Linked DNA regions of Homo sapiens: region 2 is linked to region 1. Evidence: fine-mapped expression QTL. Tissue or cell type: T cells. Region 1 holds a variant in brackets; the other region holds the start of a gene. All regions are shown on one strand. Distances are from middle to middle.

Evidence for each region. PIP is the estimated chance that this variant, and not a neighbour inherited with it, causes the effect.
Region 2: PLEKHG5 starts here. The variant in region 1 is fine-mapped to the expression of PLEKHG5 in T cells (TOPMed, PIP 0.95).

The regions. Positions count from the first base shown.
Region 1 is chr1:6,528,405-6,536,404 of GRCh38, forward strand. It overlaps NOL9 (nucleolar protein 9), which reads right to left. Exons shown (of 12, transcript NM_024654.5): 7 at 4,876-5,037; 8 at 4,059-4,356; 9 at 3,564-3,675; 10 at 590-767. Among named protein-coding and RNA genes, the nearest start is that of NOL9, 22 kb to the right of the region's middle. The variant T/C (reference allele first, on the strand shown) is at 3,060.
Region 2 is chr1:6,487,077-6,495,337 of GRCh38, forward strand. It overlaps PLEKHG5 (pleckstrin homology and RhoGEF domain containing G5), which reads right to left and starts at 4,591. Exons shown (of 21, transcript NM_020631.6): 1 at 4,561-4,591. RefSeq lists silencers at 2,882-3,241, 3,652-3,741, 3,802-3,881 and an enhancer at 8,245-8,261.

The sequences.
Region 1 (8,000 bases):
CTGACATATTTTGAAGAGAGAAGCCACCAGACCATCTAATGGGCTGAAAGTACCAAATGAAGGCTAGGGGATGCCAAGGAGGGGCCAGGGTCTGACCTGGATGTCAGAGTGAATCTTCCAATGGACCAAGTACGAGCCTGGGGCAAGGAGGAGAGGGTGAGGGCAGGAGGGTCCTGGGGATCCCAGGTCTGCATGCCAGTCAGGCACTCAAGTGAAGATGCACACTGACAAGATGGGTTTGGAACGCAGACGAACAGCTGTGTTGGAGGACACTGCAAAAAGGCAACGCCTAAAATGGATTTAGAACCCAGCAGTGACTGAGACAGCCTAGGGGAGAAGTGTCGAGCAAGAAGAGGAGGGCCAAGCCCAGGCCCTTGGGAAGCCTACATTTACAGGAGCTGGCAGACGAAGCAGAGAAATAGCTGCTTCCTTCCTGGCCTCCAGCCCCTAAGGCGTGCTATATAGATGAGTGGGGGTTCTCTGACCTCTGTAGCTTAGACACAGCTACAAGGTCAAGACCAGTCATCTACAGTTGAAGCAGTGGATCCTTTTCAGTAGGTTTATGGATATGTTTTACTCTCAGACTCACCAAAGCCCAAGCAGTCACAGATTGGAGTCTGGGCAAGCAGGATGGGCCCATTCGTGTATCCTCTGACGTCATCCTGGATCTTGCAAAGACCAACCCAGCTGGCGTTTACAGCATATAGTATATGGGTAGGGGCGACATCAGAGTGGGTAATCCGGAGTGCGACTGCATTGAAAGGGACCTGGAAAATGAATTTGCATCTCACTCTATTCATGGCTACTTTGAAAGACCACTTAATTTCTACAACTAGATTAACCAGCTATCTAAAGATAGGTCTGCCAAAGTGCCTACTCAAAAGTATCTCTAAAGAATAAAAACAGCCAGGCACAGTGGCTCACGCATGTAATCCCAGCACTTTGGGAGGCCGACGCGGGTGGATCACGAGGTCAGGAGTTCAAGACCAGCCTGACCAACGTGGTGAAACCTTGTCTCTACAAAAAACACAAAATTAGCCAGGCATGGTGGCAGGCGCCTGTAATCCCAGCTACTCGGGAGGCTAAGGCAGAAGAATCGCTTGAACCTGGGAGGCGGAGGTTGCAGTGAGCAGAGATCCTGCCACCGCACTCCAGCCTGGGTGATAGAGCAAGACTCGGTCTCAAAAAAAAATTAATAAATAAAAAATAAAAATAAAAAATAAAATAAAAAATTCTTTAGGCTGGGCGCAGTGGCTCACGCCTGTAATCTCAACCCATTGGGAGGCCAAGGTGGGTTGATCACTTGAGGTCAGGAATTTGAGACCAGCCTGGCCAACATGGCGAAACCCTGTCTCTACTAAAAATACAAAAATTAGCCAGGGATGGTGGTGCGTGCCTGTAGTCCCAGCTACTTGGGAGGCTGAGGCACAAGACTCACTTGAACCCAGGAGGCGGAGGTTGCAGTGAACTGAGATCGTGCCACTGCACTCCAGCTTGAATGACAGACCAAGACTCCATCTCAAAAACAAAAATTAAAAATAAATAAATAAATAAAATACAAAAATTTAGCCAAGTGTGGTGGCGCATGCCTTTAGTCTTAGCTACTTGGGAGGCTGAGGTACTAGAATTGAGAATCACTTGAACCCACAAAGTGGAGATTACAGTGAGCCAAAATTGTGCCACTGCACTTCAACCTAGGTGAAAGAGAGAGACTCTGTCTCCAAAAAAAAAGAAACAAAAAACACTTAAATTTAAAAAATAAATGTGGGCCGGGTGCAGAGGACACGCCTGTAATCCCAGCACTTTGGGAGGCTGAGGCGGGTGGATCATCTGAGGTCAGGAGTTCGAGACCAGCCTGGCTAACATGGTGAAACCCCGTTTCTACTAAAAATACAAAAGATTAGCTGGGCGTGGTGGCACGTGCCTGTAATCCCAGCTACTCGGGAGGCTGACGCAGGAGAATCGCTTGAACCCGGGAGGCGGAGGTTGCAGTGAGCCAAGCACGTGGCATTGCACTCTGGCATGGGCAACAAGAGTGAAATTCCATCTCAAAAAGATAAATAAATAAATAAATGTGAAGTAATACAAGACAGATTTAAGTATTGGCAGATAAATCTCACATTCACTTAAAGAGCATCTCCAGATGAATAAATGACCCATAAACTAAAACCCCATTAGCAAAGTGACTTAGACTCTCCAGGGGAGATAACTCAGAGGCCTGGAGCCCACACCACCATCGGGCCCAAGAAACATATCCTTGCTGCCCAGGTCTGCCGCTTCAGCCTATGTGACCTAAGGCAAATGCTTCCACCTGACAATGCCCAATGCTCAAAGCTGTAAATGAAGCACGTCTTAGCCTTTCTCTCACAGGGTGGCCATGAAGTCACTGAGCCCCTCCATGCTTCGCAGAGTGCCTGGCACAGAGCAAGCGCTCAAAACCGGACATGCTGTGCGGCAGAGCACAGACCTGGGCTCAGAGTCGGGCGTCCTGCGGCTTCAGTCCTAGCCTCAACTTTGACTACACCATTTTGGGCAAGCTGACTCCCAGTCCCTGGCCTTGCTTTTACCATCTGTAAAATGGGGATAATAACAGGACCACGGTAAGTAGTGGAGTTACACAGGCTTAGAACAGAGTACTGCACAGAGTAAGCATTTCAGAAGTGCTACCTGCCGCTAGTTTTGTTTTTTCATCATCCCGAATCCTAACACTATCATGCTTTCCTCCCAAAACAATTATTAGCAGCCTGGATTCCAAGTTGCAAATACTCTGGTGGTGGAATCTACTTTTGATGACAGTAATGTGAAGTACTTCTTTTTTTTTTCTTTTAAGTCGGCATCTCGCTCTGTCACCCAGGCTGGAGTGCAGTGTCATGATCTCAGATCACTGCAACCTCCGCCTCCTGGGTTCAAGCGATTCTCCTGCCTCAGCCTCCTGAGTAGCTGGGACTATAGGCACGTGCCACCATGCCTGGCTAATTTTTTGTATTTTTAATAGAGAGGGGGTTTCACTGTGTTAGCCAGGATGGTCTCGATCTCCTGACCTCGTGATCTGCCCGCCT[T/C]GGCCTCCCAAAGTGCTGGGATTACAGGTGTGAGCCACCACGCCCGGCTAATGTGAAGTACTTTAAGAGTGTTCTCTGGGTGCCAGGTTCCACTGTGAACGCTCCCTGAATCCACACGTTCACTCTCTGAGGCCCAGTAGCACCCCTGCTCTACAGCGGAAAAGTGGAAGTGCTGGAGCAGCCCCTGCGACCAGATGGGACATTCAAACCCAGCACGGACCCACACTTATCCTCAGTACAGAACCATGGCTAAGAGCAGTCACTGGAGCTGAACTGCCTGGGCCTGCATGCCAGCCCAGCCCCTAGTGCTGAGTCCCTCAGCCTCTCTACACCTCAGGTTCCCCATCTGTAAAGTGGGAATAACGACACAAGCTGTGTCACTGGGATGTTCTGAGGATTAAATGAGCGAGGAGTTATGTAGTGGTTAGGAGAGCGCCCAGCACACAGAAAACCACACAAGTGTGTAACAAAATGAAGACAATTTCTCCTGTAAGTTCAGATTACCTGATAGGGTGTCAGGCTATGTAAAGGAGAAAGTGGTTTGGGCATCGGGGGCTGCAGCTGGCTAAGGTAACTCAAGATGGACAGATCTCGAAGAATTTTGTTATGTGACTCTCTGAAAGGCAAATCACAACAAGGTAAGTAGACATTTAACCCTCAACGGCCACCTCCCACACCTGTCATCACAGAGGTCACATTTTCACAGAGTACTGGGCTTTCCAACACTGCCCCCCCTTGACGGACCCCAACTGGAAAAACAGGAAGTGTAAAGACTCTCCTTTAAGTCAAAGTTGCTGGCAGCCAGAGGTAGGGGACACTTCTGGATATTTCCACTGGGAACATAACAGTTCAGAAAACAACTGGTTCGTCTTTGTGCATGCACAGCTGTGACAGGGACCTGAAGATCTTAGAGGACTCAGGCCTTTAGAGGAATTGAGAATGGCAGGTCTTTTTCGACGGAAGGAAAAATAATTCTTCAGCCAAATGAGGGTTAGTTACCTATTTCTTGGAGTTATTCTGAATGCAAAGTCTGTATAAACACCTATCAGTTTATGTCCAGTGAACTCAACTGGACTCTCTTTTTCTTCATCAGCAAATTCCAAAGCATCTGCAAATGCTGCGAGTCTGAAACGTCGATTTCTCATCTTGGTCTTGCTTTTTGTGTACAAGCCATCCATGTCATCTACATACTGCGGGGTAAGGTCTGGCATATATTTACTGTGGTCAGAGCGGAACTGAACCACGTGGCTGGGAGACAGCAATCGGATCAGATCAATGAGAAGCAGGAGCCCCTGGTCTGTGGGGAAGAGACATTAGCACAGCTGATACACTCAAGAACAGTGACGCGCTCAAGAACAGTGACATGCTCCTACGACAAATGGATGCATTTGTTCTAAGACAAAGAAACCATCAATACGTTGGACTTCGGCTGGGCACAGTGGCTCATGTTTGTAATCCCAGCATGCCTTGACAGGCCAAGGTGGGCGGATCACTTGAGGCCAGAAGTTCAAGATCAGCATGGCCAACATGGCAAAACCCCATCTTTACTAAAACTACAAAAATTAGCTGGGCAGAGTGGCACACGCCTGTGGTCCCAGCTACTCTGGAAGCTGAGGTGGGAGGATTGTTTGAGCCTGGGAGGCAGAGGATGCAGTGAGCCGAGATCACGCCATTGCACTCCAGCCTGGGCGACAGAGTGAGACCCTGCCTCAATTAAAAACAAAAAACAAAACACTGGGCTTTAACGTGAATGTCTGAAACCAACAGTACTCACACTGCCTGTCCTTCCCTTGCAGATGTGCACATGCAGGCTTACCTGAAACCCATCCCATAGTGTTGACGATGAGAGGGGACTCTCTCTTGTAAGCGCTGAACACATATTTCACTATGTCAATATAATTCTCATAGTTGTTTTTACAAGAAGGTTTCCCATAATATACCATCTTCTGTGGAGTCCTCAGGTGAGTGAAAGGTGGTCCTAAAAAGATAAAGATGAGTAATCAGATGAGTAAGGTGAGTGATCAATCCTGGCTACTTAAAAGGTGGTGAGGGTTTTGTTTCAGCCGTTATCACTGACAAAGAACCTTAGGAAATCTGAGACCATCCTACCTACAGGAACACTCTAATTCCATTTTTTGGAAATCTAAGCTTTCAACTTAACACAAAGACATGCTCACTTTCACATAAATGGCTAATGCCAATTATGTCCTAACATGGCCATTCATTCAGCGAACACACAAATCTGCTAACTGCTGGGCTTGTTCCAGTGATTTGGGACATATCTGTAAACAAAACAGACAAACATCCCCACCCTCACAGGGCTTCTATCCCAATGAAAGGGCAATGAATAGCCATGTGTGTCTTATAGCAATACAGCAATGACTCTGTTCTAAGAGGCCCTTCACATATAGCCTCTAATTTTCTTTCTTTTTTTTTTTTTTTAGACAGAGTTTCACTCTTGTTGCCCAGGCTGGACTGCAATGGTGCGATCTTGGCTCACAGCAACCTCCGCCTGCCAGGTTCAAGCGATTCTCCTGCCTCAGCCTCTCAAGTAGCTGGGATTACAGGCATGTGCCACCATGCCCGGCTTATTTTGTATTTTTAGTAGAGACGGGGTTTCTCCATGTTGGTCAGGCTGGTCTTGAACTCCCAACCTCAGGTGATCCACCCACCTCAGCCTCCCAAAGTGCTGGGATTACAGGCGTGAGCCACCATGCCCAGCCAAGAGCCTCTAATTTTCATAACCCTGTGGCAGGTAGTAGTATCCTCATTTTTACAGATGAGGAAATTGGGAAAGAGATCAACTTGAACAAGGTCAGCCAGTCAGTAAACAGCAAGCTGGTTTAAACCCAGAGGGGCCGGCTCCTGCGTTCACACTCCTAATCATGACATATCTCCTCTGGCCAGGGACAGGGAGCTGAGCAGTTCAATGAGGGCAGGGTCTGCACAGTCAGCAGGCCAGTGACCAGGACTGTGTGTGACAGGGTCAGAAGGGAGATGGCCTGGGTCAGTGTGATTGCAGCAAGGCCACTCAACCGTCAGAGTGGCCACTATGATGGGAGCTGCGAATTCAGCCAGCGAGGCTCCTTTCAAGGTTGGGGCCAGTAAGGGCAGGGATGTGGGGTAGCCAGCAGCAGAGGGAGTGGCCTGTATAGTTCAGAGAAGACTGAGCAAATATGCAAATATATTGTAAATAATCATAGGCAGGTTTCTTCCCACCAGAGAACCAACTTACAAATATGAAAGTGAAGAAGGCTAACGAGAGTGACCCCTGGGGTGTTAAGCCAGAATCGGATGAGTCGGAAACTCATGGCTCTCTGTCTCTCTCTCTTTCTCTCTTTTTTCTTTTTATTTTTTTGAGACAGAGTCTCACTCTGTCATCCAGGCTGGAGTGCAGTGGCGCAATCTCAGCTCACTGCAACCTCCACCTCCCGAGTTCAGGTGATTCTCCTGCCTCAGCCTCCCAAGTAGCTGGGATTACAGGCACTCGCCACCACACCTGGCTAATTTTTGGACTTTTTTAGTAGAGATGAGGTTTTGTTATGTTGGCCAAGTAAGTTGGTCTCAAACTCCTGACCTCAAGTGATCCGCCTGCCTCGGCCTGCCACAGTGCTAGGATTACAGGCATGAAGCACCGTGCCTGGTTTTAATGAGACAGATAGAAAAGGTATCTACAGAAGTACAGATCTATATGCATACATACACATATACATATGTATGTTTGGGTTTAAATATGCAATATATGCTAGCTCTGTGCACTGAGGGGATCTAGAAACAATAACACACCAGAGGCAACAAGCGTGCACAGTACTGAAACTCTGGTTTCAATCTCTCTCCATGAAAAGGAGCCAGGGCTCTCTGGAAAAATAGCTCATTCCAAGGCTATGGAAGAGAAAGTGAAAGATGACCCCAGAACTTCCTGTTTTTCCTGAAAGTTAAGACAGTGCTCAAAAAAGGATGGAGCCATGGAGTAGCCAGGGTCAGTACAGCTGGAGAGCCCAGGCCAAGGGTGCAGTCAGGACCTAGGACGTAAGAGGAGCTCAGTAGACAGACAGGTCCTAGGAGGTGGCCGGCAGGGCAGAGCGGCTGCTTATACATAGGGATATTGTACACATAAATTAATGTGTTCAGAATAATGAGAGCCAAGTTTTCTTGTTTTTGTTTATTTTTAAGACAGGGTCAGCTGGGCATGGTGGCTTACACCTATAATTCTAGCACTTTGGGAGGCCAAGGCAGGTGGATCACCTGAGGTCGGGAGTTCGAGACCAGCCTGGCCAACATGGTGAAACCCCACCTCTACTAAAAATACAAAAAATTAGCCAGGCATGGTGGCGGGTGCCTGTAATCCCAGCTACTTGGGAGGCTGAGGCAGGTGAATTGCTTGAACCCAGGAGGCACAGGTTGCAGTGAGCCGAGATCGTGCTATTGCACTCCAGCCTGGGCAGCAAGAGCGAAACTCCATCTCAAAAAAAAAAAAAAAGTTGGAGGTATCACATTCTCTGACTTCAAAAGCAGTTATAATTAAAAGAGCATGGTCCAGACCGGGCTACAAAGTGAGACACTGCCTCTACAAATAATTGTTCAAAAATTAGCCAGGTGTGGGCCGGGTGCGGTAGCTCACGCCTGTAATCCTAGCACTTTAGGAGGCTGAGGCGGATGGATCACCAGGTCAGGAGATCGAGACCATCCTGGCTAAAGTGGTGAAACCCCATCTCTACTAAAAATGCAAAAAATTAGCCGGGCGTGGTGGCAGGCACCTGTGGTCCCAGCTACTCGGGAGGCTGAGGCAGGAGAATGGCGTGAACCCAGGAGGCGGAGCTTGCAGTGAGCCGAGATCACGCCACTGCACTCCTGCCTGGGTGACAGAGCGAGACTCCGTCTCAAATAAAATAAAATAAAATAAAATAAAAAAATAAAAGTTAGACAGGTGTGGTGGCTAAT
Region 2 (8,261 bases), 41 kb before region 1:
ACCCACTGTCTACACCACAGGCAGAGTTGTGTTTTTGTTTTTTGTTTGTTTGTTTTTGAGACGGAATCTTGCTCTGTCACTCACGTTGGAGTGCAGTGGCATGATCCCAGCTCACTACGACCTCCACCTCCCAGGTTCAAGTGATTCTTCTGCCTCAGCCTCCCCAGTAGCTGGGATTACAGGCGCCCGCCACTACACCCAGCTACTTTTTGTATTTTAGTAGAGATGGGGTTTCGCCATGTTGACCAGGCTGGTCACTAACTCCTGATCTCAAGTGATCCACCCCCACCTTGGCCTCCCAAAGTGCTGAGATTACAGGCATGAGCCACCACACCCGGCCAACAGGCAGAGTTTTGAAAACTAAAACTTCCCATCTTGCTTATAGTGAAATCCCACCATGGCCGGGCTCCCGCCTCCCTCCCAGCTGGTCCGCACAGGGTCCACCTGCCGGTCTTCCTTCTCTCCCTACAGCTCGCCAAGCTCAGGGCCTTCTCCTCTGTATTTTCTGTCTGGAATTCCACGCACCCTATCTTGAAACAGCTGACACCGGGCCCCAACTTAAATGTTACCTCTAAGACGTCCTTTTCCCTCATCTTAAAATAAACCACCCTTACCCTCCCACTCTCAATTCCTTTAAGTTAAATTATTTCCTTCTTAGTGTTTATTACTACCTGTAATTCATTTCTTTGTTCACTTTTTTATCATCATTCTTCCCTACCAGACTGTCCTCTCCAGAAGCCAGCGCCTTGGCCGTCTGCATCTCACTGTGTCCTCGGCACTTAGAACAGTCCTGGTGCACAGTAGGTGCGCTTGGTGGGGATGAGATCAGTGAACAGATGAAGGCAGAAGGGCCTTCATGCCACAGAAGGACATGGGGACAGGAAAGGGCTCGGCCAGGATATCCCTTCCTGTGGCCGACAGTCAACAGAGCCTTCCCCACTGCCAGACCGAAGGTCTCTTCCTCCTCCTAGTATCCATGACCTTGGGCCTGCTGGCCCTGGGCAGGTGAGTTCCTACTTCAAATCGGGTGGTCTTGCCCCAGACCTCCACCCCCATACTGTCCTGTAGGCAGATAACTGCATTTCACTGAGCATTCCATGTGCCACCCCATCGTGGGAGTTCCAGGCAGTGAATCCCATTCGCTCTTCTCAAAGACTCTTAGGAGGAGATACTGTTACAATCCCCATTTAACAGATAGAGAAACTAAGGCCTGTGTCAACTGACTTGCCCCAAAGTCACCAGCTGCTGCTACGTAGGGAAATGGGTGCCTCAGGCACAGGGCAGGCGTGGGGCCTGAAGACAGCTGAATGTTGGTTTGGGCAACAGGGCCCTGGAGATTGCCTTCCTGAAGACACGGCAGATCCCAAAGCCAGCTTGTGGGGAGCCCACCGGTGTGGGGTAACCAGGTTGCATCAAGTGGAGACCACCAGGGCTGGGTCAGGGCGGATCACCAGAGGTCACCTGAGTGCCTGGGCCCTGGCCATCCCTGAGTGAGGCTGCTGCCTGGGTACTCAGCAAGGGTGGGGGACTGTTCCTTAGGGGCAAGAGTGCAGAGCAGAAAGGAGCCCCCAGCCCCTGTACCAGGGCAGTGGGGTGGGCCTGGGCAGGCTCCTGCATTCCCACCTCCTCTCCACAGCAGGGAGCTGAAACAGCTCAGGGGCAGGCCCAAGAAGTCCTGGCCCCCAACTCCCTGGGGAGGGAGCCCCTCCCCAGCCCAGCCCCAGCTCCAGGCTTGTGAGTCAGGGCCGGCTTGTTGAAACTGATACCCAGAAACCAGATGCGGAGGCTGATGAATAATGGAGTCTCCAAGGCAGGACCCCCGCACCCGGCTGTTCTCCCTCAGTATCACCTCCCCCAGCCCCAGAAAAGCAGATGGGAAACCAGGGATCCCCCAGGCATCCCTGCCCCACAACGAGCTGGGGCCCCAGCCTGGTCTGGGTGGGAGAGGGACTTCCCTGTCCAGGAAAGGACGCAGGTCTGGGGCCAGCTCCAGGCTCTGCCGACAGCAGACGGGCCTGGAACCAGGAGTCCGAGCTCTCTGGCTGGAGGGATGTCCTTGCCAGGAATTCCCACCAAGGCTAAGCTCCCCTGGGAGCCTGCTAGTCCCAAGGCCCCACCCAACACCTTAGAAATCCAGGGGTGGAGACTGCATGCATGGGCAGGCCAGCCAGGGCGGGGTGGCTTTGCCAGGCGGCTCTCTACGCTCCACCCGGCCTACCCACCCTCCTTTCCCCTAGGCCCAGGCCTCACCCATCACCCCTTGGGTTCTGAGGCTCACCTGGAGTCAGAGCCTGACCTAAGGCCCTGCCCTGTGCCGGGCAGATGGCAGGGACACAGAAAACCTCTCCCCAGGCTAAGCCCACCGCACGGGCCCTGGAAGCCAGGAAGGCCCCTTCCTCCCCAGGGAGCGGTCCTGGCTAGTATGCCCAAGGCTGGGACCCAGTGCTAGAGAAAGAGGGAGGGGCTGCAGTCTGTGAACATCCCCTCCTGCCCAGCCTCTGCAGTTCCCAGCCCCAGACCCCAGCGTGTGTCTTCGGAGCACCTGGACTAGCAAGCCCTTCCCCGGTGCAACTTAGAAGCCTCCTTGGTAGGGAGCGGGGGAAAGAGGGCACCTGCCTGGGCTTCAGAAGACCTGGTCTGGAGCCTACGTTCCCCCACCCTTCCCCTACTGGGCCTCAATTTGCCCACCTGTGCCAAGAGGGCATAGAATTCAGTATCTGGGGATGGCTGCCAGGTCCTAGTGTGTGCCCGGACCCCGGCTAAAGGGCAGGAGAATGGTAAAATACCCCCGAGCTCCCTCAACTTGAGGAGTTACTAAGGAATCTGCAGGGGACCTCTTGGCCTCCATTTCCCAGACTTCCACCAAGGCAGGCCAGGGCCTCCCCGGATTCACGGGTCTCCCGCATCCCCCACCCCTAAGTGGGTGCCTGGGTCTGCTCAGACTGCCCGAGGCGCAGCCTCTGGCGCCCCCTGCCGGCCTCGAGAGGGCTTTTCCGCCTGGGACCGACTCCGGGACTGGCCAGATGGGGAGGATCGGCTGAGCCTCCCAGCCACGCCGCGCGCCCGGGCCCCTCCAGGATCCCCCTGCCCCGCCAATACCCCCCATACCGGGGCCAGGGTCCCATAGACTCCTCACGGCCCTATCTCCGAGCCGACCCACCCTAGAGACACTGTGATGGGGGCGGGAGCTTGAACCCATTCCACCCTCACGTAAATGGAGATACAGCTGGTGAGGACCCTGTACCCACCCACAGGCCTGGCACTACGTGGGAATCTCGAATCCGGGTTCTGTCCATCGGTTTAGGGGGGTCCTGGCGCCTAGTCCCACCCCCCGTCCGGAGCGCAGCTCCCACTTCCCCGCGACTCACCTAGGAACAGGACCAGGGTCTCCTCCCCGGTGTCTAAGGCTCTAAGGCTCGGGCCGAGACTGCCAAAGCCTCATGGGGCGCGCGGGGAGAGGGGGACGGGAGCCGCGGGACGGGCTCAGTCGACTCAGCGCAAACTGGGGCGCGGGACGTAGGGGAATTACGGTAGCCGCGCGGGCGCTACCACCTGGACCGGCCGGGATGTACCAACGGCGCCGCCCGGCTGGGACCGGGGAGAGGAGGGGTCCCAGGAAGGGCCCCGCGCCGGAGCCAGGGAGGTGGCTGGAGGCCGGGCGGTGGCTTGGGGTAATCCAGGATCCGGGCTCAGGGGAGGGGGTGGGGGGCGTCACTGTCCCCGAGGGGCCAGCCCTTTGCAGATCTCCAAAAAGTTCAAAGTCCCTGGTCATTAACTTGGGCTTGAAGACGGGAGCTCGCCCATCCCGGAAGGGGGCTAGGGGGGACCAGGGCCCGCGACAGGAAGCCTCCGCGCGACAGAAAAGCCCCGGGGGACCAGGCAGAGAGACCCGCAGGCCTAGCCCGCCCCGGAATCGCCCTGAGCCAGGTTCGCTTCCGCTCTATTGTAAAAAGCTGGATTCTGATCTGCGGCCTCCGCGGTGCCCCAGAAACAGCCCGCTTTTCTCTGGGCCCCCTCTTTTTTTTTTTTCTGGCCCAGGTGATATGGCCGGAAAAGGGTGCTGTTCTGCCATTTAGTGGTTCCCAGTTCCCCTCTCCCAGCAGCGGGAGTTTAGAATAACTCTGGGCTCAGGACTGGGAAGGGTGTGGATACAGGGGGCCCACTCGAGGAGGTGGAGTTCAGGTCCACCAACCTGTTCCGCACTTTCAAGCTTTTTATACAGCCTTCCCCCGACCCCTTCCCAGGCCAAAACCTCCAGACTGCCCCACACAACCCTTGGGGCTGGGCCTATACTAGGGCAGCTCCTGGCTGGGCCAGGGATCCCCACGTCTTCACCTGCTCCCCCAAAACTACTTAGCCAAAACCCAGGAGTCCCCTTGCATTGTTTCTCTGGCCCTGCCCGTTTCTTCAGCTGCAGATAGCCCCACCACCTCTCTCCGGGGACCAGTCACTTCCAGAGATGGCCCAAACCTGGCCATTCCCTGGGGCATCCTGGTCTGCCGCTGCTCACCCCCAAAGCATTGCCCAGGAGAATAGGTGATTGCCTCTCCCATTACTCACATCCTGCCCGTCCCTTCTCCATGGGGGCCTCAGGTCCACCCTTTCCTCTCCCTGGTCTTCATCTCACCACCCCTCCCTCCACACACGCATACCCTGACTCATCCCTGCCACCTCACAGGCCATTGTTAAGCTGCAAGGGAACTCTGAAGTCCTCCCATCCAACCTCCACTCCACACTGCAATCCCCTCTACGCTTCCCTTTCTGTCTCTTCTTGCATATGTCTAGTGATGGGGTGCTCACTACCTCCACTTCGGGGATAGCTCCAGCTGCTGGAAACTCTTTCCTGTAGTGTGCTGAACCCCACCTCCCTGTCAAGGCCTTTGGGAGCTGTGCAGAAAAATTCACCTCCCTTTCCTCCTGAGAGTTCTGAGGAAATGGGAGGCTCTGACAGAGAGGCCTGGTTTGAGTCCTGATCTTGCCTTGCTTGGCAAGTCATTTTACCTCGCCACTCTGCAGGGCCCTCTCTAGGAAACGGAGATGGGGTAGGCCCCACCGCAGCGGGGGAGGCGGCCAGATGAGGTTTCTGTGCCAGGCGCTAAGGCAGGGCCTGGCATACAGTACGTGCTGGATCAATGGCGGCTGCTGGAATCACTACCTCCTCCATGATAAACACCCTCACATGTGGTGCCCAATGTCCCCTGTGGCCCAGGGCCACAAGTGTCCTCCTCCATGCCCCCTTGTGACCTGGGACGCCCTGACTAGACCTCGAACAGTGCCCAGTGGAGCCCAGCAAGGAGCTGGGGAGTCCACACACTGTCCCGTGGCCACCTCACAGGAGGGCAGGGGGAACCCACAATATCATTAGTCTGCCTTGATCTCCCGGCCTTTCTCCATCTCCCCAAACTCACAGCTCCACCTGTGTGCAAGAAGCTGGGATGGAGCCTGGGGAGGTCTCAGATCCCAGGGCAGGTACGGAGGGCACACCCAAAGTCTAGAGGTGACTTTGTTACCCCCACTCCCAGGACACCTTGCACACCTACGCTGTGCTAGGCTCTATGCTAAGCATGTTATATATGGGCCTCTTTTAATCCTCGCTGCCGGGTTATTTTCCAGATGAGGAACCTGGGGTTCAGAGAAGTGTAGTGACTTCCCCAGGGTCGCACAGCTGGAAAAAAGTAGGTTTGATCCTGGAGCTCAGAGGTGTGGACTGCTCTACATATCTTCATCCTGGGGAGGGGCCATTTCTCTCCTGGGGTCTCCATGACACACAGTCCAGACCCCTCATCTGGACATGCAGGTGCTCCTAGTGCAGCCTGCCTCCCCCTCCTCCCGTCCCCTTCTCCCTGTGCCCCCTGGCCTCGCTTGCCCCTTATAGCCCCCAATGTCCCCCCCTGCTCACTCAGCTGTCCTCCATCTCAGTACCTCTTTAATCCTCAGGACTCCAGTTGCCTCCAGGAAGCCCATCCTGGTTAGCCCTCCTCCCAGTGGGAACTCCAGGGGCAGGAGGTAGGGGACAGATGGCAAATTCATCTCAGAAGCTCCAGCACCCAGGAGAGCCTCAAATAAAACATCAAGGGTGGGCCCAGAAGCCGAAGGGTCCAGCCCTGCCTGAAATTGGTCCTTTGCCAGGGCAGCCTGGGGGGAAGTTTGGCCAGCCAGGGTCACTTCCCTTCCTTCCTCCCAGCACAGCTAGAATGTCACCTCCAGGAGGGCATCCCCTTTGTTCTCTGGAGATCTCCTGGGCCTAGAACTGGGCCTGGCACCGACAGATGCTCAGAGCTGGTCTGGTAAATGAATAAATGAAGTCATCTCCTTCAAAACGCTAGTCACATCCTGGAGAGTAAGAATAGGGCTCTTGATCAGACAAGCCTCACGCAGGCCAGGCTCTGACGATCATGCTGTGTGATGTGGGCAAGTTCCTCTACCTCTCTGGGCCTCCGTTTCCTTACAAGTCATGTGGTCATAAGAATAACGCTGTTCTCCTGAGGGTCTCAAGAAGCTTCACTGAGACAAGCAGGAGGGCCTAACGCCCCGCCTGGCATGTAAACATGTTCGGTCAGCAATAATTGTTATTATTATTATTATTGGGTGTTTTTTGAGACAGAGTCTCGCTCTGTTGCCCAGGCTGGAGTGCAATTGCGTGATCTCAGCTCACTGCAACCTCCTTCTCCAGGGTCCAAGCGATTCTTCTGCCTCAGCCTCCTAAGTAGCTGGGATTACAGGTGTGTGCCACCATGTCCGGCTAATTATTTTTTATATTTTTGGTAGAGATGGGGTTTCACCATGTTGCCCAGACTAGTCTCGAACTCCTGACCTCAAGTGATCTGCCCACCTTGGCCTCCCAAAGTGCTGGGATTACAGGCATGAGCCCCTGCGCCTGGCCTGTTATTTTTGAGACAGGGTCTTGCTCTGTTGCCCAGGCTGCAGTGCAGTGGCACAATCACGGCTCACTGCAGCCTCAATGTCCCAGGCTCAAATGATCCTCCCACCTCACCCTCCCCAGTAGCTGGAATTACAGGTACCCACCACCACACCTGGCTAATTTTTTTTTTTTTTTTTTTTTTTTTTTTTTAGACGGAGTCTTGCTCTTGTTGCCCAGGCTGGAGTGCAATGGCATGATCTCAGTTCACTGCAACCTCTGCCTCCCAGGTTCAGGCAATTCTCCTGCCTCAGCCTCCCGAGTAGCTGGAATTACAGGCACCCACCACCATGCCCAGCTAATTTTTATATTTATAGTAGAGATGGGGTTTCGCCATGTTGGCCAGGCTGGTCTCGAACTCCTGAGCTCAGGCAATCTGCCCGCCTTGGCCTCCCAAAGTGCTGGGGTTACAGGTGTGAGCCACCACGCCAGGCCTTTTTTTTAATTTTAGTAGAGAGAGGTCTCCCTATATTGCCCAGGTTGGCCTCAAACTCCTGGGCTAAAGCAGTCCTCCTGCCTCAGCCTCTCACAGTGCTGGGATCGCAGGTATGAGCAACCACACCCAGCCAGTAGTGGTTATTATTATCATCATCGACAATGTTATTCTTTGTTTCTCTTACCAAATCTGAGTGCCCCGCACCTCCTCTCCACCACTGCCTCTCCCTTCCTGGACTGCCCTTGCCTCTGTTCTGTCTATCCATGTTTTCACATCCATTAAAGGCCCCCTCCTCCAGGATGCCCTCCCTGACTGGCTCTCTATGCCTCTGATAATTCAGGCATTTCTGCCCCTACAGTGAGTCTGTGCCATTTGTCCCAAAGGGCGTCCCAGTAGTGACAGGGCCCAGACTCTCCCCGTGCACGCTGGGTGACCCTCATCAGCTGATGCCAATGTCAGCTGTGCCAAGTTCCAGGCAGGCCAGGGCTGGAGGTGAGGTCTGGAGGCTGCAGAGGGACCATACCCACTCTGAGACCAGCTCTCTTCTCCCAGGCCTCACCTCTATGAAGGCTGGGCCATCCCACCCCTGCCCCTGCCTGAGCAGCTTGAGGACCCCCCCTGAGAGCAGCTGCCCAGAGGAGGGGCTGGGACAGTGTGCCTTATTGCCCCAGCCGCCCCTTCAGGTCAGGCAAAAGCCTCGGGGCTCCGCAGGCCTCTGGCAGGATGTATATTGGGGGGAGCTGAGGCCAATTTGTTGCCAGGAGCCCCCATCTGGGAAAGAGGCAACCAGCCAACACCAGAGCCCAATGCCAGGCACCATCCGTGCCAGCAGATTGTATCTGACATCACACCGCCCCCCTGCCTGGTGACCACGGCAACTGGAGGCCGCCCCCTCCCCGCCCCGCC